Linked DNA regions of Homo sapiens. The protein of the gene in region 1 interacts with the protein of each later gene in a biochemical or structural test. Each region holds a gene or a part of one and is shown in the gene's direction. Other genes may lie near its edges.

Evidence for each region.
Region 2: of the proteins of ARID3A (region 1) and PML, one has a biochemical effect on the other in vitro, tested with the Homo sapiens proteins (one study listed by BioGRID).
Region 3: the proteins of ARID3A (region 1) and OTUD3 form a complex in vitro, tested with the Homo sapiens proteins (one study listed by BioGRID).

What each region holds. Positions count from the first base shown.
Region 1 is NC_000019.10:963,992-971,099, forward strand, and holds part of ARID3A (AT-rich interactive domain-containing protein 3A), read left to right. Parts: intron 1-256; coding exon 257-440; intron 441-841; coding exon 842-1,089; intron 1,090-2,580; coding exon 2,581-2,877; intron 2,878-4,413; coding exon 4,414-4,512; intron 4,513-7,108. UniProt on the Homo sapiens protein: Transcription factor which may be involved in the control of cell cycle progression by the RB1/E2F1 pathway and in B-cell differentiation.
Region 2 is NC_000015.10:74,032,696-74,039,803, forward strand, and holds part of PML (protein PML), read left to right. Parts: coding exon 1-20; intron 21-460; coding exon 461-719; coding exon of another isoform or gene 720-727; intron 728-1,782; coding exon 1,783-1,835; coding exon of another isoform or gene 1,836-1,961; exon of another isoform or gene 1,962-2,476; coding exon of another isoform or gene 2,477-3,256; exon of another isoform or gene 3,257-3,311; coding exon of another isoform or gene 3,312-3,365; exon of another isoform or gene 3,366-3,699; intron 3,700-7,108.
Region 3 is NC_000001.11:19,885,395-19,892,502, forward strand, and holds part of OTUD3 (OTU domain-containing protein 3), read left to right. Parts: exon of another isoform or gene 1-4,765; coding exon of another isoform or gene 4,766-4,803; intron 4,804-4,809; exon of another isoform or gene 4,810-4,990; coding exon 4,991-5,139; intron 5,140-7,108.

The sequences.
Region 1 (7,108 bases):
GCTGCGCTGTCCCTAAGCCCAGGTTACTGGTGGATAAACCGAGGCAGAGCTGCCCCCTCTGCACCCTCTCGAGCAGAGGTTCCCAGCCTGGATGATCCTGCACCCACAGAGGGCCCTGGGCAATGTCTGGAGACATCTGTGGTTGTCACAGCCTGGGCGGGGGAGTGCTCCTGGCATGGAGAGGGCGGAGGCCAGGACACTCGGCTCCCTGCAGTGCCCAGGTGGCCCCCAACCTCCCTCTCGCCCCTTCCCCCAGGGACACCTGTGAACCGCATCCCCATCATGGCCAAACAGGTCCTTGACCTGTTCATGCTGTACGTGCTGGTGACGGAGAAGGGCGGCCTCGTGGAGGTCATCAACAAGAAGCTGTGGCGTGAGATCACCAAGGGCCTCAACCTGCCCACGTCCATCACCAGTGCAGCCTTCACCCTGCGGACCCAGTGAGTGGCGGACGGTTGTGCCGAGGTCGGGCCAGGGCACTCTGAGCAGCCAGTGCAAGGGGCCTGCAGAAGAGGGAGGGGGTGGTGGGCAGCTGCAGAGGAGGGGGCAGTGGGCAGCCGCAAAGGGCACAGGGCCACACCGTGCGTCCAGGGCCCGAGAGCGTCAAGTAGGGGTGCGAGGACCACACAGTCTCTGGGGTTGTGCAATCAGGGGCCATTGCGAGGAACAGCATTGAGATGGAGGGAATGGGCAAAGGCCCAGCAGCTCTGGGGGCTGCTGAGCAAGTCCAAGGGAAGAACCAGGGATGGTGGTGCCACAGTGGGGTTTACTTTGTACTGAAGGCCAAAGAGAGCCGTAGGGGTGACCCGGGTGCCATCCTCTTCCCTCGTCCCACCCACAGATACATGAAGTACCTGTACCCCTACGAGTGTGAGAAGCGGGGCCTCAGTAACCCCAATGAGCTCCAGGCAGCCATAGACAGCAACCGACGGGAGGGCCGGCGCCAGAGCTTTGGTGGCTCCCTCTTTGCCTACTCGCCAGGCGGGGCACACGGCATGCTCTCCTCACCCAAGCTACCCGTGTCCTCCCTGGGCCTGGCCGCAAGCACCAATGGCAGCTCCATCACCCCCGCCCCTAAGATCAAGAAAGGTAAGGGCCTGTATGGGGCCTGGGGCGTGTTCCCAACTGAGCTTCAGCCTGGCTGTCTGACCTTGGGGGATACCTCTTCCCCTCTCTGGGTAACCAGGATGAAAAACCCTATAGTTGGCATGGAAAAGGGCTTCCAATCTACCAGTCCTCTGCCTATGGCAGACATTACCAATCCATCACCATTTTCTAATTCCACACAGGTGGCAGGCAGACATTGCTAATCAATCTGTGTTTCCAGTCCTGTGGCCAAGGCAGACATTACTAATTGATCACTGTTTTTCCAGTCTACACTGAGGCAGGCATCATCAGTTGATCAGTTTTCCCTCCCACTGAGCCTCTGAATCCTCCATAACACAGAGGTACCAACAGCACACACAGCAGTGTCACCTCAGTTTGCCTGTCTGAGTTACCATTTCTCATCTGGGCAACATAGTGAGACCCCATCTCAAAAAAAAAAAAAAAAATTAGCTGGGCGTGGCAACGTGCACCTGTGGTCCCAGCTACCCAGGAAGCTGAGGTGGTCAGATGGGTTGAGCCCAGGAGGTCGAGGCTGTGGTGAACTGAGATTACACCACTGCACTACAGCCTGAGCAACAGTAGTGAGACCCAGTCTAAAAAAAATTTTTTTAGGCCAGGCACAGTGGCTCACGCCTGTAGTCCCAGCACTTTGGGAGGCTGAGGCAGGCGGATCGCTTGAGGTCAGAAGTTTGAGACCAGCCTAATCAATATGGTGAAACCCTGTCTCTACTAAAAATACAAAAATTAGCCGGGTGTGGTGGCACACACCTGTAGTCCCAGCTACTTGGGAGGCTGAGGCAGGAGAATCGCTTGAACCCAGGTGGCAGAGGTTGCGGTGAGCCAAGATCACGTCACTGCATTCCAGCCTCAGCGACAGAGTGAGACTCCGTGTCAAAAAAAAAAAAAAAAAAAATTAGCTTAGTGTGGTGGTGGGCGCCTGTAATCCCAGCTACTCAGGAGACTGAGGCAGAAGAATCACCTGAGCCTGAGAGGCAGAGGTTGCAGTGAGCTGGGATCGCGCCACTGCCCTCCAGCCTAAGCAACAGAGCGAGACTCTGTCTCAAAGCAAAAAAAAAAAAGGCTGGGCGCGGTGGCTCACGCCTGTAATCCCAGCACTTTGGGAGGCCGAGGCGGGCGGATCACCTGAGGTCAGGAGTTCAAGACCAGCCTGGCCAACATGAAGAAACCCCGTCTCTACTAAAAATACAAAATTAGCCAGGCGTGGTGGCGGGTGCCTGTTTCCCAGCTACTAGGGAGGCTAAGGCAGGAGAATCACTTGAACCCGGGAGGCAGAGGTTGCGGTGAGCTGAGATCGCACCATTGCACTCCAGCCTGGGCAACAAGAGTGAAACTCCGTCTCAAAAAAAAAAAAAAAAAGAAAAGAAAAGAAAAAAGAAGGTGCATGTTCCTGCCTTGAGTGGAAGGCAGGGCCCAGCCCCTCCTGGCCACCAATTCCCCTTTTTTCCTACCTAGAGGAGGACTCAGCCATCCCCATCACAGTCCCTGGCCGCCTGCCTGTGTCCCTGGCGGGCCACCCTGTGGTGGCAGCCCAGGCAGCAGCTGTGCAAGCAGCAGCCGCCCAAGCAGCTGTGGCCGCACAGGCAGCTGCCCTGGAACAGCTGCGGGAGAAGCTGGAGTCTGCAGAGCCTCCGGAGAAGAAGATGGCCCTGGTGGCCGATGAGCAGCAACGGCTGATGCAACGTGCACTCCAGCAGAACTTCCTGGCCATGGCGGCCCAGCTGCCCATGAGCATTCGGATCAACAGCCAAGGTACTGCCCTCGTGCCCAGACCCGCTGTGCTTCCTGCGTGTGTCACACAGTGAGGGCCTTGGAGCCTACATATGTAAAGAGTGCCAACAAATCAATAAGAAAAAAAAAGCCGGGTGCAGTGGCTGACATCTGTAATCCCAGCACTTTGGGAGACCGAGGTGGGTGGATCACTTGAGGTCAGGAGTTCGAGATCAGCCTGGGCAACATGGTGAAACTCCATCTCTACTAAAAATACAACAAATTAGCCGGGCGTGGCAGCGCACCCCTGTAGTCCCAGCTACTTGGGAGGCTGAGGCAGGAGAATCACATGAACTGGGAGATGGAGGTTGCAGTGACCCGAGATAACGCCACTGCACTCCAGCCTGGGCAACAATAGCAAAACTCCATCTCAAAAAATAAAAAATAATAAAGTAAACTGGCTGGGCACCGTGGCTCATGCCTATAATCCCAGCACTTTGGGAGGCTGAAATGGGAGGATTGCTTGAGCCCAGGAATTTGAGATCAGCCTGAGCAACACAGTGAGATGCCATCTCTACAAAAGTTAGCTGGGCGTGGTGACACGCTCCTGTAGCCCCAGCTACTCGGGAGGCTGAGATGGGAGGATCACTTGAGCCCAGGAAGTCGAGGCTGCAGTGAGCCATGATTGCACCACTGCATTCCAGCCTGGGTGACAGAGCAAGACCTGGTCTCAAAAACAAGGTAAAAAAAAACAAAGTGGAGTATGGACAAATACACTTATTCAACAAATAAATATTGAGCACCTACTGTGTGCACTGGTGACAGCATGAATGTGACAGACACCGTCTACACCTTGTAAAGCTAAAATCTAGTTGGCGAGACAGACAGAAAACAGAACATGTCACAGGTGTCTTTATGATCAGAAATGGCAGTTTTGGTCGGGCGCGGTGGCCCACGCCTGTAATCCCAGCACTTTGGGAGGCCGAGGCGGGCAGATCACCTGAGGCCAGGACTTCAAGACCAGCCTGGCCAACATGGTGAAACCCCGTCTCTACTAAAAATACAAAAATTAGCCGGGTGTGCTGGTGTGTACCCATAGTCCCAGCTACTCAGGAGGCTGAGGCAGGAGAATTGCTTGAACCCTGGAGGTGGAGGTTGCAGTGAGCCGAGATCGCACCACTGCACTCCAGCCTGGGTGACAGAGTGAGACTCCGTCTCAAAAAAAAAAAAAAAGAAAGAAACTCATTTGTTCGGCTGGGCACAGTGGCTCATGCCTATAATCCCAGCACTTTGGGAGGCCGAGGCGGGTGGATCACGAGGTCAAGAGATCGAGACCATCCTGGCCAACATGGTGAAACCCCATCTCTACTAAAAATACAAAAAATTAGCCAGGCGTGGTGGCGGGCGCCTGTAGTCCCAGCTACTGGGAGGCTGAGGCAGGAGAATGGCGTGAACCCAGGAGGCAGAGCTTGCAGTGAGCTGAGATCGCGCCACTGCACTCCAGCCTGGGCAACAGAGCAAGACTCTGTCTCAAAAAAAAAAAGAAAAAAAGAAACTAATTTGTTCTTCTTCCCACAGCCTCCGAAAGCCGCCAGGACTCTGCTGTGAACCTGACGGGCACCAACGGCAGCAACAGCATCAGCATGTCGGTGGAGATCAACGGCATCATGTACACAGGTAGGACCCCTGAGGCCACGCCCTGCCTGGACCTCGCCTCTCCCGCCGCCGTGAACTCAGGACCCTGAGTTGCGCCTGGTCCCACCTGCTTGAACCTAGGTGTGCGGGCGAGCAGGGCACGGCCAGGGGCTTTGCAGGACAAACAGTCAAGACTGATGGAGAGGATACCATCGTTCACCCGGTACCACGCTCAGCCCAGAGGGGGTCGTCCACAGATACATATTCAGTGTGACGTTGGATGGTTCACATTCCTAGTTTTTTGTTTTAATGAGACGGAGTCTTGCACAGACATGCACCAGCACACCTGGTTAATTTTTAAATTTTTTGTTGCTCTTTAAATTTTAAATTGCTTTGTTGCTCAGACCGGTCTTGAACTCTGGGCTCACGCAATCTTCCTGCCTCGGCGTCCCAAAGTGCTGGGATTACAGGCGTGAGCCACCGCACCCAGCCAATCCCAGCATTTTCGGAGGCTGAGGAGCAAAGAATGTATAAGCCCAGGGGTTAGAGACTTTCAGGCTGCAGCAAGCTGTGATGACGCCACTGCACTCCAGCCTGGGCCACAGACCGAGACCCTGTCTCTTGAAAAAAAATTTAATGAATGTATTTTTTATTTTTTTTAATTTGTAATTTGTAATTTTTGTGGGTACATAGTAGGTATATATATTTATGGGTTTTATGAGATGTTTTATACTGGCATCCAATGCCTAATAATCACATCAGGGTAAATGAGGTATCCAAAAAATTGAATCTAGGCTGGGTGCAGTGGCTCATGGCTATAGTTCCAGCACTTCGGGAGGTTAACACGGGAGGATCACTTGAGCCCAGGAGTTCAAGACCAGTCTGGGCAACATAGTGAGACCCCATCTCTCCTAAAAATATAAAAATCAGCAGGGCGTGGTGGCAGGCGCCCATAGTCCCAGCTACTCGGGAGGCTGAGTAGGGAGGATCACTTGAGCCCAGGAGGTGGAGGTTGCAGTGAGTCAAGATCACACCATTGCACTCCAGCCTGGGTGAAAGAGTGAGATCCCGTCCTTCTCTCTCTCTATATATCTATATATAGATATATCGATAGATATAGCTGTAGCTATACATAGATATATATAGATTAGATATAGATTTATATGTATCTATAAATACATATATACTTTTATATCTATATCTACATAGATATATATATATATAGTTGTTTTTTTTTTCTTTTGAGAGGGAGTCTTCCCTCTGTCACCCAGGCTGGAGTGCAGTGGCACGATCTTGACTCACTGCAACCTGTGCCTCCTGGGTTCGAGCGATTCTCCTGCCTCAGCCTCCCCAAGTAGCTGGGACTACAGGCGTGTGTCACCACACCCAGCTAATTTTTTTTTGTATTTTTAGTAGAGATGAGGTTTCACCATGTTGGCCAGGCTGGTCTTGGACTCTTGACCTCAGGTGATCCGCCTGCCTCGGCCTCCCAAAGTGCTGGGATTACAGGCATGAACCACCGCGCCCACCCTATATATACATATTTTTTTAAATAAAATGAATTAAAAAGTTGCCGGGCACAGTAGGTCACACCTGTAATCCCAGCAGTTTGGGAGGCTGATGTGGGTGGGTCACAAGGTCAGGAGTTCAAGACCAGCCTGATCAACATGGTGAAACCCCATCTTCCCTAAAAATACAAGAATTAGCGAGGTGTGCTGGTGTGTGCCTATAATCCCAGCTGCTTAGGAGGCTGAGGCAGGAGAATTGCTTGAACCCGGGAGGCGAAGGTTGCAGTGAGCCGAGATCGCGCCACCGCACTCCAGCCTGTGCAATGGAGCAAGACTTCGTCTCAGAGGAAGAAAAAAAAAAGAATTAAAAAATTTAATTAAAAAAGTGGAGTCAGTGCCAGGGGCAGTGGCCCACGCCTGTAATCCCAACACTTTGGGAGGCTAAGGAGAGAGGTTTGCTTGAGGCCAGCCTGGGCAACACAGAAGACCCCATCTCTACAAAAGAACATAAGTAAATGAATAGTTTTTCTTTTTTTTTTTTTTTTTTTTTTTTTTTGAGACAGAGTCTCACTCTGTTGCCCAGGCTGGAGTGCAATGGCATGATCTCAGCTCCTGCAACCTCCGCCTCCTGAGTAGCTGGGATTACAGGTGCATGCCACCAGGCCCGGCTAATTTTTGTATTTTTAGATGATACGGGGTTTCACCATGTTGGTCAGGCTGGTCTCGAACTCCTGACTTCGTGATCTGCTGGTCTTGGCCTCCCAAAGTGCTGGGATTACAGGCATTAGCCACCACACCCGGCGGTAAATGAATAGTTTTTCTTAAAGTGGAGTCAGGCCGATGGTTCATAGTGGCCACCAGGTGGCGCTGTCGACACAGAGCAGCCTTGTTGCAGGCCCCCGCCCGGCTGTGGTCAGAGGCTGAGCTGAAGGTCAGTGGTGTCCTCACAGGTCCACAAATGGATTTTTGAGGGGTCCGTGCCCTCCGGAAATCAGATGTAAAACGTGTACATTCATATTGAATCTTACAGGGGAGAAGGCCAACTGTGTGCTAGGGGTCTCGCAACCCCACATCAACGAACCATGGGCATCAGGGTTCTCCCTGCAAGAGCTGTGTGCACGCTGATGTGC
Region 2 (7,108 bases), on another chromosome or scaffold:
AAGGCCCTTCCTATGGAGAGGTAAGGTTCTCCCCAGCCCCAGCCTTCCCTCCTGAAGGCCTGAGTTCCACCAGGAAAGTGAGCTGGCACTGGGGTGGGAATCCAGGCCTTCATCAGATCAGCTCTTTGTGGGAAAGTGTTTGCTCAACGCCTTCTCTGTGCTCTCCCCTGTTCTTGGCTGCATGGTCAGGGAGCTTCCCATAAGCATGGCCCACTCCCAGCCCAGCAGGGGTGCTGAGACACTCAGGGTTGTCAGAGGCCAGCAGAGACTGGTGGACAGCAGATAGTACCAGCTTGGGAAGGCTTCCTGTCTGAAGAGAGACGTAATCTGCGTGGTTGAGAGCAGAGGAGAGGGGACAGCAGGAGCAAAAGGGTGGCCACAAGTCCCTGGCAGTCAGGGCAGGCTCTGCCCACTCACCCCTGCAGGCACCTGACCTGGCTCTGTGACTCCCTCTATGCAGGATGTCTCCAATACAACGACAGCCCAGAAGAGGAAGTGCAGCCAGACCCAGTGCCCCAGGAAGGTCATCAAGATGGAGTCTGAGGAGGGGAAGGAGGCAAGGTTGGCTCGGAGCTCCCCGGAGCAGCCCAGGCCCAGCACCTCCAAGGCAGTCTCACCACCCCACCTGGATGGACCGCCTAGCCCCAGGAGCCCCGTCATAGGAAGTGAGGTCTTCCTGCCCAACAGCAACCACGTGGCCAGTGGCGCCGGGGAGGCAGGTAGGGAGGTGGGTAGGGCAGTGGCCTGGGTGCTGCCCGCCAGGGTCTGGGCGGTGCCCCTCTTCTGTATTTTGGCCCCATCCAGAAAGCCCAAAGCCAACAGGAGTCCCTTATTCCCACTGAATAAGATAGGGAAAGTTCACAGTGTGCGTGGGGGTGAGAGTGGACACAGTTTACCATGTGTTTTGCCATGATTGAGGTGTGGGGAGCCTGACAGGCTAAAATGCACAGTTCTATGAGTCCTTTCTCCCAAACACTACTGTGCCTTTGCACAGGGCAGGTCTCCACAAGAAGTTTGTTGGCTGATGCCTAGCATACTCCCAGAGAGGGCTTGGGCATACCATAACAGGAAACTGGACTCCCCATGACCTTAACTCTGCTCTCTCAGTCTACACCCATCATTTCCCCAAGTGTTTCTGCAAAGGCCACCTACCTAAGTATCTCATTTGTCAGAGTTATCTTCTATGAACACTGCCAGGCAGGTAGTCAGTTGGGCAGGAGTTGAGGTCAACCCAGAGGAATCTGGAACAAGAGAGTTCTAAGGATCTGCTTCACCCAGAGTACAGCTTTGTTCCTCATTCTGACTGAGCCCTAGCCTTGGTCACACACTGAGCACTGACTGATATTCCTTACCCACAAATGCTATTGGTAATCGATGGGTTTTGATTAACTAAATGAAGCGTCTTTTAACTCTAGACATCCCAGCTCATGGAGCTGAGAATGGGGACAGTGTGCTTCTTTAGGATTGCAGAAGGTTCCAGACCAGGTAGCAGTTGTCAGGCCTCCTGTACAGGGGGCAAATTCTGAATTCTGGGCAGATAACTTAATTGAATATTCATAGATAAGGCACAGCAAGAAATTATGGAAACCCATTTGTGAATTACTCAAATCCAAATGCAAAGCAGAGTCACATTGGCACACACAGTGGCTGTTCCCGTCCCCCTGCAGGGCATCCGTTTCCCCCAGCCGACTGGCCTGCAAGGATTCCCATAGGTGCACACCCACACCCCTCCCAGCATGCATCCTAGGCAGTTCATAATGCATCTCCCCTTCCCCGTTTCAGAGGAACGCGTTGTGGTGATCAGCAGCTCGGAAGACTCAGATGCCGAAAACTCGGTGAGTGGCCCAGAAGTTCAGCCCAGGACTCCTGCCTCCCCCCATTTCAGGTCCCAGGGGGCACAGCCACAGCAGGTGACTCTCAGACTTGCCTTGCGCCTGGGGAATTTTCCAGTGAGGCATTGAGTCCCAAGCTGTGCTGAGGACAGTCTCCAAATGACAGCTGCATGCCTGGACCACCCCAGCCCTCCCACTACACCAGGGCCAGGAGCTCTTCTGAAATGCTGATAGCATGTGTCCAGAGCCCTGTCTCTTTTCTGGAATGTCCAAGACCTTTGTCTGGAGCTTCCTTATGCATTTTCTGTCCTCTAAGTCCTCAGTGAGGAGGGCTGGACAAGAATCCATTCCTTGGTTTATTACAGCCAGTGGGGGCCAGTGAAGGGGTGTCAGGCCACAGGGCAGCTATATAGGGGCCAAACAAGTGAGGTTTGACTCCATCCATGTAGAAAGATATATAAATCCATTCCACAGTGAAACAGGTGGCCTCGTGGGTAGTGACCCTTCTGTCCCTAGAGGTTTATTACTAGAGGCTGGACTATCACCTGTCCAGGGGAAAAGGGGATCTGAATAGAGTGAAAGGTTGGACTGGGTGGCCCCTGAGGTCTCTTCCAGCCCTCAGTCTGAGGTTCTGTATTGGAAAGTGCATGGAGCCCATGGAGACCGCCGAGCCACAGTCCTCGCCAGCCCACTCCTCGCCAGCCCACTCCTCGCCAGCCCACTCCTCGCCAGTCCAGTCTCTGCTGAGAGCACAAGGAGCCTCCAGCCTGCCCTGTGGCACATACCACCCCCCAGCTTGGCCTCCCCACCAGCCCGCTGAGCAGGCTGCCACCCCCGATGCTGAGCCTCACAGCGAGCCTCCTGATCACCAGGAGCGCCCTGCCGTCCACCGTGGGATCCGCTACCTGTTGTACAGAGCACAGAGAGCCATCCGCCTTCGCCATGCCCTCCGCTTGCACCCTCAATTGCATCGGGCCCCTATTCGGACTTGGTCTCCCCATGTGGTCCAAGCCAGCACTCCTGCCATCACAGGGCCCCTCAACCATCCTGCCAATGCCCAGGAACATCCTGCCCAGCTGCAAAGGGGCATCAGCCCACCCCACCGGATACGAGGGGCTGTGCGATCCCGCAGCCGCTCCCTCCGGGGCTCCTCCCATTTATCCCAGTGGCTCAACAACTTTTTTGCCCTCCCCTTCTCCTCCATGGCTTCCCAGCTTGACATGTCTTCCGTGGTGGGGGCAGGGGAAAGCAGAGCCCAGACTCTTGGAGCAGGTGTTCCCCCTGGGGACTCTGTCAGAGGCTCCATGGAGGCCTCTCAAGTCCAAGTGCCTCTGGAAGCCTCTCCAATTACATTCCCACCACCCTGTGCCCCAGAAAGGCCCCCCATCAGCCCAGTCCCAGGCGCCCGTCAAGCAGGCCTCTGAGAGTGCTACCCTTCTCTTGTAACCTTGCAGCCAACACCCCTGCCCGGCCCCTGAGCTGCCTCCTCCAGCCCATGCTCTTACAGGCCCTGCACAGAGTAGCACTCATTAATTCTTGGTTAAGGAATGAATCAACGAATGAATGGCTATGCATGGACCTCTGGGCAGGGAGACCTGGGTCTTCTCTGGCTGAGAGGGGAAGGCTAAGGCATGGCTGAGATTCAAGCCACCATTCCAGGCCTCTTTGCCCAAGAAAGAAACTTCTGTCACCCTTGCACTCTCCTGTATTCTGAGTCCCTGGCCAATAGCACAGCCTTCCATGCCCCGACCCCCACCCCAAGCCTCTCCACTAGGCCTCTGCCAGGATCTAAGCCCATGAGCACAGGGACTGGCTATCCCAAGACCTGGCAGATGTGGCTGCTCAATAAACACTTGTTGAACCATCACCCTTGCGAACCCTTATTCCACGACCATCGCGTTCTCCGATGGATCCAGCTCCTCCCTGCAGGCTGTTCTCTCTTCCCTATGCTGGAACTCAGTTCTCCTCTGGGGATACCATGTCCCCTCTTCCTCCCACACTCATGGGCATCAGAGGTGGGAGGTAGGGTCAAGGCCCCCTGCTTCCTGGACTGTTCCAGCCCCTTCCTGGCCGTCTGGTAAGATCCTCTGTCCCTCTCAGGGTGGGCCCCATGCTCCCCAGCTCATCCCAGACACCCACCTGCCCACCCTCATTGAGGGCAGACGTGAGCATTCACCTCCCAGATTTCTTCTCCCTGCTCAGGTCCTGCCTTCCTCCTGAGTGACTTCTATTTCCACCCACCTGCCCGCCACTCCTTAACCTCTCAGGGGTTGTCACCCCATTCCCCCAGACAGCTGCCTGCCCCGTGGCCGTGCCCTGCACCTTGCCATCACCGAGCACTGTCGGTCCCTCAGCCGGTCCTCTCAGACTCTGACCGCAGCCTCCTGTTCCTTGAGCTCTCAGTCCTACCTTCGCCTCCCTCCAGCCCCGCGCACTCCCCATTTCATCCCATCTTTCATCAGAATTGCAGCTCCCTGCCCAGCAGAAAATCCTGGAAGGACTCAGGAGCTTGTCGCCTCTGTGCTGCCACCTGGAGACCGAGATCTGCAGGAGAAAGGCCTGGGAAAACTATGAGTGGTTGCCTGTGACTGCTAAGGGCTCCTTGGTGCTCCGCCCAGCATGTCCTTTTGCTCTGCAGGGCAGCCCCCGCCTGCCTTTCTTCACTGGGCCCTTGTCCCAGCCTCACCCTCAGCTGATGGCGGCACCTTCTGCTCCAGGGAGAAAACAGGAGCTCTCCAATGGCATAGGGACAGTTGACATCTTGCTATTTACAGATCCCCATCGCACCCCTTCCCTGCCCTCGTTAGGGTGGAAGGGATGTCCACCTGCCTCCAGGACTCACCCTGTGTCCTGGCCCCAGCCCTTGACCCCCTGGGAGCCTCACTCCTCCTCCTCATCTCTCTTGCATCTTCTAATGTATCCACTGCCTTCTGAACTAAACACCCTGAATGAGGTCTTTCTCATCTCAGAAAACTCCACCCACTTCTCTCTCCAGCTGTCGGCTCCCCTTCCTCTGCTCTCCTTGTTTACACTTCAGCCCCCTCCTTGCCCCTTCTTCACCCCACCTCCTGCGCTTCCCCGCCAGTACCAGGGTGGCCTCTGTGCCTCTAGGTGCAGTGTCGCGTTTAGTCGTTATTATTCTTGACCGGCGCTGGGCCCGGTCTTTCCTGGAAAGATCGCCTGCTCGGATGCAGCTCTGGGCACTCCTCCCTCTCCTCTGCAGGCTCTGTTTTTTCTTGGTTGTGGTGCTCCTGCAGGTTTGCTGCTGGGCCCTTTCCTCTTTTCAGTCTGTGTATTCTCCCAGGTGCTCTCAGCCACGCCCCTGACTTCAGTTACTGCCCAGGGGTAGCTGATACCCAACACTCGCACCTGCCTGCCAGACCAGCATGGCCAGTGACCTTCCAACAGCTCCGCATGGATGCCCATAGGTACCTCAAACTCAGCACCTTCTCCTCCCGTCTCACTGGCTCGCCCCACTCTCTGCCCGGTTGCACAAGCCAAGACCCCATAGCCACCCAGGGCACCCCCCTTTTGATTATTCCTCACATCCAACCAGTTATTGAGTCTTGTCTTTCTAGGGTGTAAATTCCTCTGAAATCTGGGCACTTCTTTCCATCCCATAATCTTGGTAAAATTAAAGCTACCACTGACCCTGGGTAGAGGCAGAAGCCTGGGAAGGAAAGGTGGAGAACAGGTTTGGAGTGCCAACAGTGTCCCCAGATGTCATGGAGAATCAAGTAGAGGGACCCCAGCAATATTGGGGGTGGGGCGGGGAGTATGTAATGCTCAGCTATCAGCAAGGAGTCATTAGGGGCTATACAGTGAATTAAGGGAGGGGGTAAAAGCACATTTCAGGTGATGATGAATTAAATACCTAGGAGCTCACATTAGAGAGCAGGCCTAGAGACGTGGGGAGAGAGCCAGAGGACCGCTGCTTTTGTGTATGTAGCTTTAAGACACAGGTTTTAAAAATTGTTATAGGAGTCCCAAACTTTAGAAAATATATATTTTAAAACCCCAACAAATTAGGTCCCCCCTATGCATTTCTCACCCAACTTCTGGGCCCTTTCCAGACCCCTGGTGCCCCCAGAGTACACCCAGCACCACCACTGCAAATTCCTACTCCCCAGCTTGGAGGGGGTGGGGTGATATTCCCAAGGTGATCCCGGCTCCCACCTAACCCATCCTCCCCAGCTCTGCAGCTTATATCCAGCTTTGCAGTGAGGAAAGTTGCAGAATACTGGTCTGCTACATTACTACTTTCCAAGTGTATCAGGGCATTTAGGAACCCCTCCCTTGAGCTTCACCTGTGTCCTAGGGATTCAGTGAGAGACTGTTTGTGCAAGAAGGAGCGAGAGGCAGCAGGGCATAGTCATGGGGTGGAGCAGTGAGTCCCCCAGGCCTGGTTGTGGAGTACCTGGGGTGAGGACTTTGCTTAAAAACTGCCAGAGTGGGTCAGCAGTGCGCCTGCCCTGGGGCCCCTGCTTTAGGATCCAAAGTGGAAAAGATAGGTGTTTTCACCCACTCTTGTGACAGATTACTGGCTCCGGTGCCTTGGTGGCAGCAGCAACAGGAGGGGGCCAAGGTGAGGGGGCAGCCTGTGGCAGAAGTGGCAGTGGTGACGGCGGAGGAAGGGAGGCCTGTGGGGAATGGCTGATCCAGGGGAGGGGCCGTGGCACTGGTGAGTGTGCATCTGAGAAAATGAAACGGAGGTGCTGGCCAAGAGGCTGGAGCTAGGCAGAAGGGCAGCAGAGGCCACAGGCTGGCCGAGTTTATGGTCCAGTTCACTCATAACATGTGCAGTATTCCTGGGGTCTTTGAGGCTTTGCAAGAGCTGGGGTTTTGTGTCTGCAGAAAGATAGCAATGCATGTGTCTTGCCAAACTGATCCCAGCTGTAGCTGATGCTTAAGTGCTCAGAAAGTTCTTCAGGAGCTTGAGGGCTCTTGATAAGCATGAATGTCAGATGTTCTGTATCTTCCAGAGGCTGGATGCTGACTATCAGAGTTTGGCTTGTGTTTGGCTGATGAGCAAACCTGGAATGAATCAGTGATAAGGACAATTGTTCTCAAGCTGGCTGTACACTGGGGAGTTTTCCCAACTACAGATTCCTAGGTCCTACGCCCTGAGATTCTAATCGAATCAGTCTTGGGTGCAGCCTGGGCCTCAGTTTTTTCTTAAAGCTATGAATGCCTAACCAAAGTCAAGAACCACTGAATCGGGGGATTCATTGCATGTCTGTGGTAGAGGAATGCTGCTCATTTGTTTATAGATGTGG
Region 3 (7,108 bases), on another chromosome or scaffold:
ACTTTATCACTGCAGGGGATGGTGTTTCCTGTGTATGTGATGGGTTGGCAGGTGTCAACAGATTCTTCTACCCCCCTCAGACGGAGTCTTACTCTGCCACCCAGGCTGGAGTGCAGTGGCACAATCTTGGCTCACTGCAATCTCTGCCTCCTGGGTTCAAACAATTCTCTTGCCTCAGCCTCCTGAGTAGCTGGGATTACAGGCACCTGCTACCACAGCCAGCTAATTTGTTTGTATTTTTAGTAGAGATGGGGTTTCACCATGTTGGCCAGGCTGGTCTCGAACTCCTGACCTCATGATCCATCCGCCTTGGCCTCCCAAAGTGGTGGAATTACAGGTGTGAGCCACCGCGCCTGGACAACGGATTCTTTTATTAATGTTTATTAAGGACTCAGGTGAAATATAATGAAGTTAAAGACTATTAAAAAATAGTTGACATCTCTAGCGTTCCCTGTTTTCATTCAGATTTGATTACAATCTGGAGTAGCCTGATACAGTATCTATGAGCATGTTCATTGTTGGCAATATGGTACCTGTAGCATTCTGGAACCTGAGGGGGTTTAGGGATGAATTAACCAATATCCTGTAATACAGCCTTTACATGGGTTGAGTCAGCTTAGTGTAGATTAATCAGGGAGCTACTTAGAGGGTTTTGTAATGCTTCCTGGACCAGCTTCATATTTCACGTGTTGTCTGGAAGGTGGACCCACATAAATTGGATTCATTTTTCAAAGCAAGAAAGAAATAGTTTAACCTTGATGTTTTCCTTAAAAACATGATTGGCTATAGTGTGAAAAGAATGTATAACTCTATTTATTAGGCAGTACAATATTAACATCCCTCTGAACTTATCTAGTTGGGTCTTACTAAATGTAGTTCTGAGTTACATTACTCATTAGCAGTGTTCTAAAATTGAAACATTGAAGAATCACTAATTTTAGCTGTTTATCTTATTACTAACAAGTAGTTTATTTTTTAGTTTTGTTTTTAATATTGCAGGATCACAGTAGTAGAAGGGCATTCACACATCATCTTGTCTAATTATTGCCTGTGTCACCTGAACAGCAGTGCCATCTTTTGTGCCTCACTCAGTGGTTTTCAGTTGGGTGCCATACTAGAATATCTGGGGAGGAACTTTTGAAACAATTCAGGGCCTGGGCTCTCCCCTAGATCAACTACATCAGAATCTTAGAGTGGGGCCTGGTTATTGATGTTTTTTAAAAAAAAATTTACAGATGATTCTTATATGCATCCATAATTGAGAGTGACTGATTTAGAGTCTAGATGCTCAACTAGTGTTTCTCAAACTTCAGTATGCAACATAACCACCTGGACTGCTAGTGAAAACACCTGGAAGGGCTACGTTGCTGGGCCCCAACCCCAGAATGCCTGATTGAGTAGGCCTGGGTGGGCCCCAGCATTTTCATTTCTAACAACTGCCCAGGGGATGCTGATGCTCCTAGTCCGGGAACACACTTTGAGAATCAGTGATCTAGATCAGCGCTGTCCAGGGGAAATAGAATGTGAACCACGTATGTGATTTAAAATTTTTCTAGTAACTACATTAAAAAGAAACAGGTGAAACTAATTTTAGTATATTTTATTTAAGCTATTGTATCTAAAATACTATTTTGACATACAATTCAATATAAAAATTATTGATCTCTCATATTTTCTTTTTCTTTTTCTTTTTTTTTTTTTTTTGGAGACATTAGAGTTTGTTGTTGTTGCCCAGGCTGGAGTGCAATGGCACGATCTTGGCTCACTGGAACCTCTGCCTCCCAGGTTCAAGCGATTCTCCTGCCTCGGCCTCCTGTGTAGCTGGGATTACAGGCATGCGCCACCATACCTGGCTAATTTTGTATTTTTAGTAGAGACGGGGTATCTCCGTGTTGGTCAGGCTGGTTTCAAACTGCTGACCTCAGGTGATCCGCCTGCCTTGGCTTCCCAAAGTGCTGGGATTACAGGCATGAGCCACCGCACCCGGCTGATGATCTCTCATATTTTCTTATATGACCGCTTCAGAATCTAGTATTTTACACTGATAGCACACCTCACTGTGGATTAGCCACATCAGATGCTCAGTAGTCACATGCGGTTAGCAACCACTATTAAACAACACACATCTAGACAATTGCTGTGAATTGCTAGTTATAGAAATTGGCAGAATCCTGAGTCTATATAGTCTACCTCCGTAGAGCTAAGGTGAAATTACCTTTTATTTGCCAAAATCTATGTCTCTGTGGCTTCCAGGTTTTCGTTTTATTATACAGGTATAATTTTAATTTCACATGACAGTTGGAGGTATTGATCACGTCCCCCTGAGCCTTCTTTAGGCCAAACATCACTAGTAGTTCTTCATATTGTATTAAAGCCACATCATTTATCTGAATACGTCTCTCTTAAAATACAGTAACTAGAATGGTACCCAGTACCCTATCTGGTCTGACCCCAAATAATAAAACCTTTTCCTTTTTCTGCACATTTACTATTATTACTGCAGTCTAGAGAGCACGTTAGGTTTTTTGGTGCGTGTGTTGCAATATTGTCTAATAGTAAATTATTGCGCACTCAAAACATTTGCGTGCTCTTTATGTAATTGGTTGTTTTTGTGAACTCAAATGCGAGACCTGCCATATATCCCTATAACACAGTGGTTCTCAAGCAGGGATGATTTTGCCCTCCAGGGGACATTTGGCAATGTCTAGAGACATCTTTGGTTGTCACAACTGATGGGGAGGGAGGTAGTGATGTGCTACTGACAGCTAATGGCAGAGGCCAAGTATTCTCCTAAACTTCCTACAGTGCACAGGACAGCCTCCCACAACAAAAAAATGATCCTGGAATGTCAATAATGTGGAGATTGAGAAGCCCTGCTATAGGTAATGGTGAGAGTGTGAACTCAGGAAGTGGCCCAGATCTCCTAGAGGCCCTTTGGGCAGCGGTGCTTTGTTCTCATGAGTTTCTTGAGTGCTCTTATTGGGCTCACCTAAGGAAACCCAGGTCACTGGAGTGTTTGTTCATTACCTTGTAATCCTGTCAGAAAAGGAAGTGATTTGTCTATTTTGGCTTGTTTTGGGTGAGCTCAAAGAAAGTTTGGTAAGTAATGAAAAGCATATTAAAAAATGTAACAATTAAAACTCTTAAATATTATTTTTAATTCTGCTGCCTAGGGGTAACTATGGCTATCATTTTGGTGTTGACATTCGAGCGAGAGCCACGTTATTTGGACTTGGATCCTGGGCCTACCACTTACTAGTTTTGTGACCTTGGGCAGGTTTCCCCTGAGGGATGGTAATAGGACCTATCTCAGAGTTGTGAGACACAACATGTTTAATACATATAAAGTGTTTAGGACAGTCCCTGGCACATTGTAAGAACTATTTAAGTGGTTGTTTCTGTGTGTTTTCTTGGCATACGTTTGTGTGTGTTTCTGTGTCTGTGTATGTGTATAGTGTACAGATGAACTTGGTTGAGTTCATGTGGCATATACAGTTCTACACCTACTTTTTTGGAGAACATTTGCTCATGTTATTAAAAGTTCCTAGCAAACATGTAACTGTAGAATACCATGAATTTTGGTACATTAAATGTAAAATAACTACATAAATTTGTGATAAATCACATCTCTTAAACTAAATTCAAGAATAGGCTAGTGGTGGCAGATGCTGATTAAGAAAAGTTTGAGGGAAAAGCTTGACATTTAAATTGTTTTATCGATTAACTTACTTTTCTCCATGGTTGAAAAAAGACTGCCATTGTCAGATTTTAGCAAGACACCTCAGTCTAGCCTACAGAACTCTATATTCCACTCCTTCTAGAATCTTGTCTTAGATTGTTGGAAAGCTTCTTGGTTTTTAATTTATAGAAGCTGTCTTAATTCTCCCCTCCCCTGCAAAAAAAAAAAAAGTATATATTCTTATACATTAGAAGAGATTCCAGCCTTTCTATAGCTTTCTGTTGAAAATTCACTTTTCTGAGTTGAAAAACAAAACCCCCTTTTTTCCTACACATTTAGACATGAAATCTTTCTGAAAGTGATGAGTTTATACTTTGGAATTACAGTATCATAGTTTTTCATTTGGAAGAGTAAACAGTTGGGTGTAAAACTGGACAACTGTTTGGCTTCAGAATTGTTTATTTCTGTAGTTTTAAGGATACCAGATTGTGTTTGTCTTGTTTGAGTCTCTGTGTATCTAAGCCTCTGTGTTTGTGATAGTTCGGAATTTAGAAGCCTTTGAGGGGTTTGAAAGTAAAGATAACTCTTACAGTTTATTACCAGTATTTTAATTTTAGAGAAACAAAATGTGGTGTTTAAAGTTTTCATTTGGCAGGAATAACAATGGCATTGTTGCTCCCTGGGTGCTAAGTGAGGAGGCAAGGAGGAAGTGTCTTTCCATAGTACAACTGTTTGTTGTCCAAGTGCTTTCCTTCTCATGACTTTCTCCACTATGTTCTTAGGACTCAAACAGAGTATTGTTCAGTTGTTAGTATTGGCAGCTTGACAAATTGCTATTTTTTGGGTACTATTTGTTAAATGAATGATTACTTAGCTGGGTAGCTGTAGTGGAACTTGTTTTAGAAAAGAGGCTGTAGATAGGACATGATTTTGGAAGAGGATCTGTAAATCATAGCCCTTAGGCATGGAATGGCCTATAAGGTCTGGACCTTGTAGTAAGGTGGTTAGTGTATCACCGGCTCCACTTGTTGAAGCAGCTGAGGCCCAGGGAAGTTTGATGACTCTCCTGAGTCAGCCAGCTGGTACATGGGGAATAGAATCCTTGTTTGCTGCCTCTCAAGAAGGTAATATGGTTGAATATGCCCTCATGCTGTCCCCCGTGGTCTTGGAAGAATCCTGGACTATTAGAGTTGAGTCTTTACCTCTGTGTGCACAAAATATTTCCATGGATGATCTGGCATGAAGCATCATTGTTTTAGACGAACTAAGTTCATTTTTGAAAGGTCTTGACTCGTGTTGTTGTTTTGACAGCAATTGCTTGTTCAGAGCTCTTGGTGATCAATTGGAGGGACACTCACGAAATCATCTCAAGCACAGACAGGAGACAGTGGACTACATGATAAAGCAGCGGGAAGATTTTGAACCCTTTGTAGAAGATGACATTCCTTTTGAGAAGCATGGTAGGTTCACTGTGGGACATTGTGTCCTTCAGGAGTAATGCATTGGGTAATTAAGTCCACTGGCATCCTCCCCCCTCCCAGCCAAGGGTTTGGTTATATAAATCACGACATTCATTTATTCAAGAAATATTTGTTTGCCTACTTGGTTATCGGCAGTATGCTAGGTAGTTGGGGATCAGTAGGTTTAGCTGTATATGCCCTTAATAAACATGATGGTATTAATTGACCTGAAAAGCGATTCATGACTTCTTACTCTGTGGGGTGGGAAAAGCAGGCTATAACATAGCTTGTATAGGTTGATCCTATTTTTAAAAGGTATACAGACACAGTAGGAAAAGTCTGGAAAGATACTAACATTTTGTTTGTTAATTCTTAGCTTCACTTATTTTTCAGAAATTACTCATTCTCTTTAAACTTCTATAGAAGGGAGATAATAATAGCATCTATCTCACAGGGTTTTTGGTGAAGATTAAATTAGATAACAAAATTAAAATAAGCCCTTAGTAAGCGTTAGCCATCTGGGGATGATGGGACTATGGTATTTTAAATTATCTTTTATAGACTTTTTCTGACTTTTAGATGATCATGTATTACTTTTAAAATTAGAAAAACCAATAAAATCATGTTAATTTCTCACCCAAACCCCAAACACAATCTGTTTTCTTTGAGGCAAGTCAGTTAGTGATTTTAATTGGTTCCTATTTAATAGGCATAGATCTTATAGAAAATGCATATGAACTTGTAAACTTTAATTTCAACAAATATTTACTGAGGATCTACTGTGCTTGCTGCTGATATGTCTTACAAATGGCATTTTCATCACAGGGCTTATAGTCTTTTCTGTCTGTTATCAGGAAAGAGAATTGATCCTTTGTTTTAGAGAGCTAAGTCTGGAGGCCATGCCAAGAATGGATGGGGAGAGAGACTGATAAAGGAGACTAGTTAGAAGGTCTCCACACTGGCCAGATGAGAGTAGAGGAGGTCTCCATCAAGGTAGCTACTGAGGATAATGAGTAAGGCCCAAACCAAGCCACACTTTGGCAGTATAATTGACAGGACACATTGGAGGTGAGGAGGGGAGAGGGAGGAGACAAGAGTGATTCTGAAGTTTCTGCTTAGGGAATGGGTAATTGGCTGTACCGTTAGCAAGAGAGAGGGCAGCAGGAGGGGGACATTTGGGAGAAAAGGTATCAGTGATCCCAAAGTGTTTCCCATTCCTTACTAGGAAAGAACTTACTCAGTAGGCACCAGACACAGAGCAACAAAACTTCCAATGGGTGGTTTGTACCAATCACTGAGTTCAGATGGTCCCTCTTCCTGGGATTACTTTTTGGCTAGCAGATATGCATAGTTTACTGGATAGTCAGCAGTTTACAAATTAAATGTTTGTATATGGGACAAATTTTGTAGTTTAGTGCTGTACGAAATGAATTGTGTCATTAATCCAATGAAAACATCATTTTGGATGAAACGGGTTTTTAGTTTGTGATGTGAAACTCCACTTTGAACACTGTCAGTGAAGATCACATGGTGGATTTTGGGGTGTTACAGGATAGGGAACTCAAATCTTCGGTTGCCAATGTGATAGTCACTTGAGATGAACAGTGGAAAGGTGTTTTCTTGAAATGTCACTATGCATGCCTGTTGCTTGGAGCTGCTTAAGAATTTGAGCATCACAGAAGTAAGAAGTCACTTTGACGGCCAGAGCAGAAATGAAAAGAAACCTGGAAGTCTGCACATTCTCTTTGTGTGTCAGTTGAAGGCTTGGCTTGTTACATTGGTGAGTCTTGAGTCATAGTTACCTGTTTTTAATGTCAGTGTGCTGCCTACCTTGTTGTACTGTGAGATTCTCAAGGGCAGGGACTGTGTGTCTTTGTTTTGCGGTGTGGCAGTGCCCGGCATCTGGTAGACATTCATAAAGTGAATAAATGAATGGTTCACTATACTATTAAGGACCTGGTCACCCTTG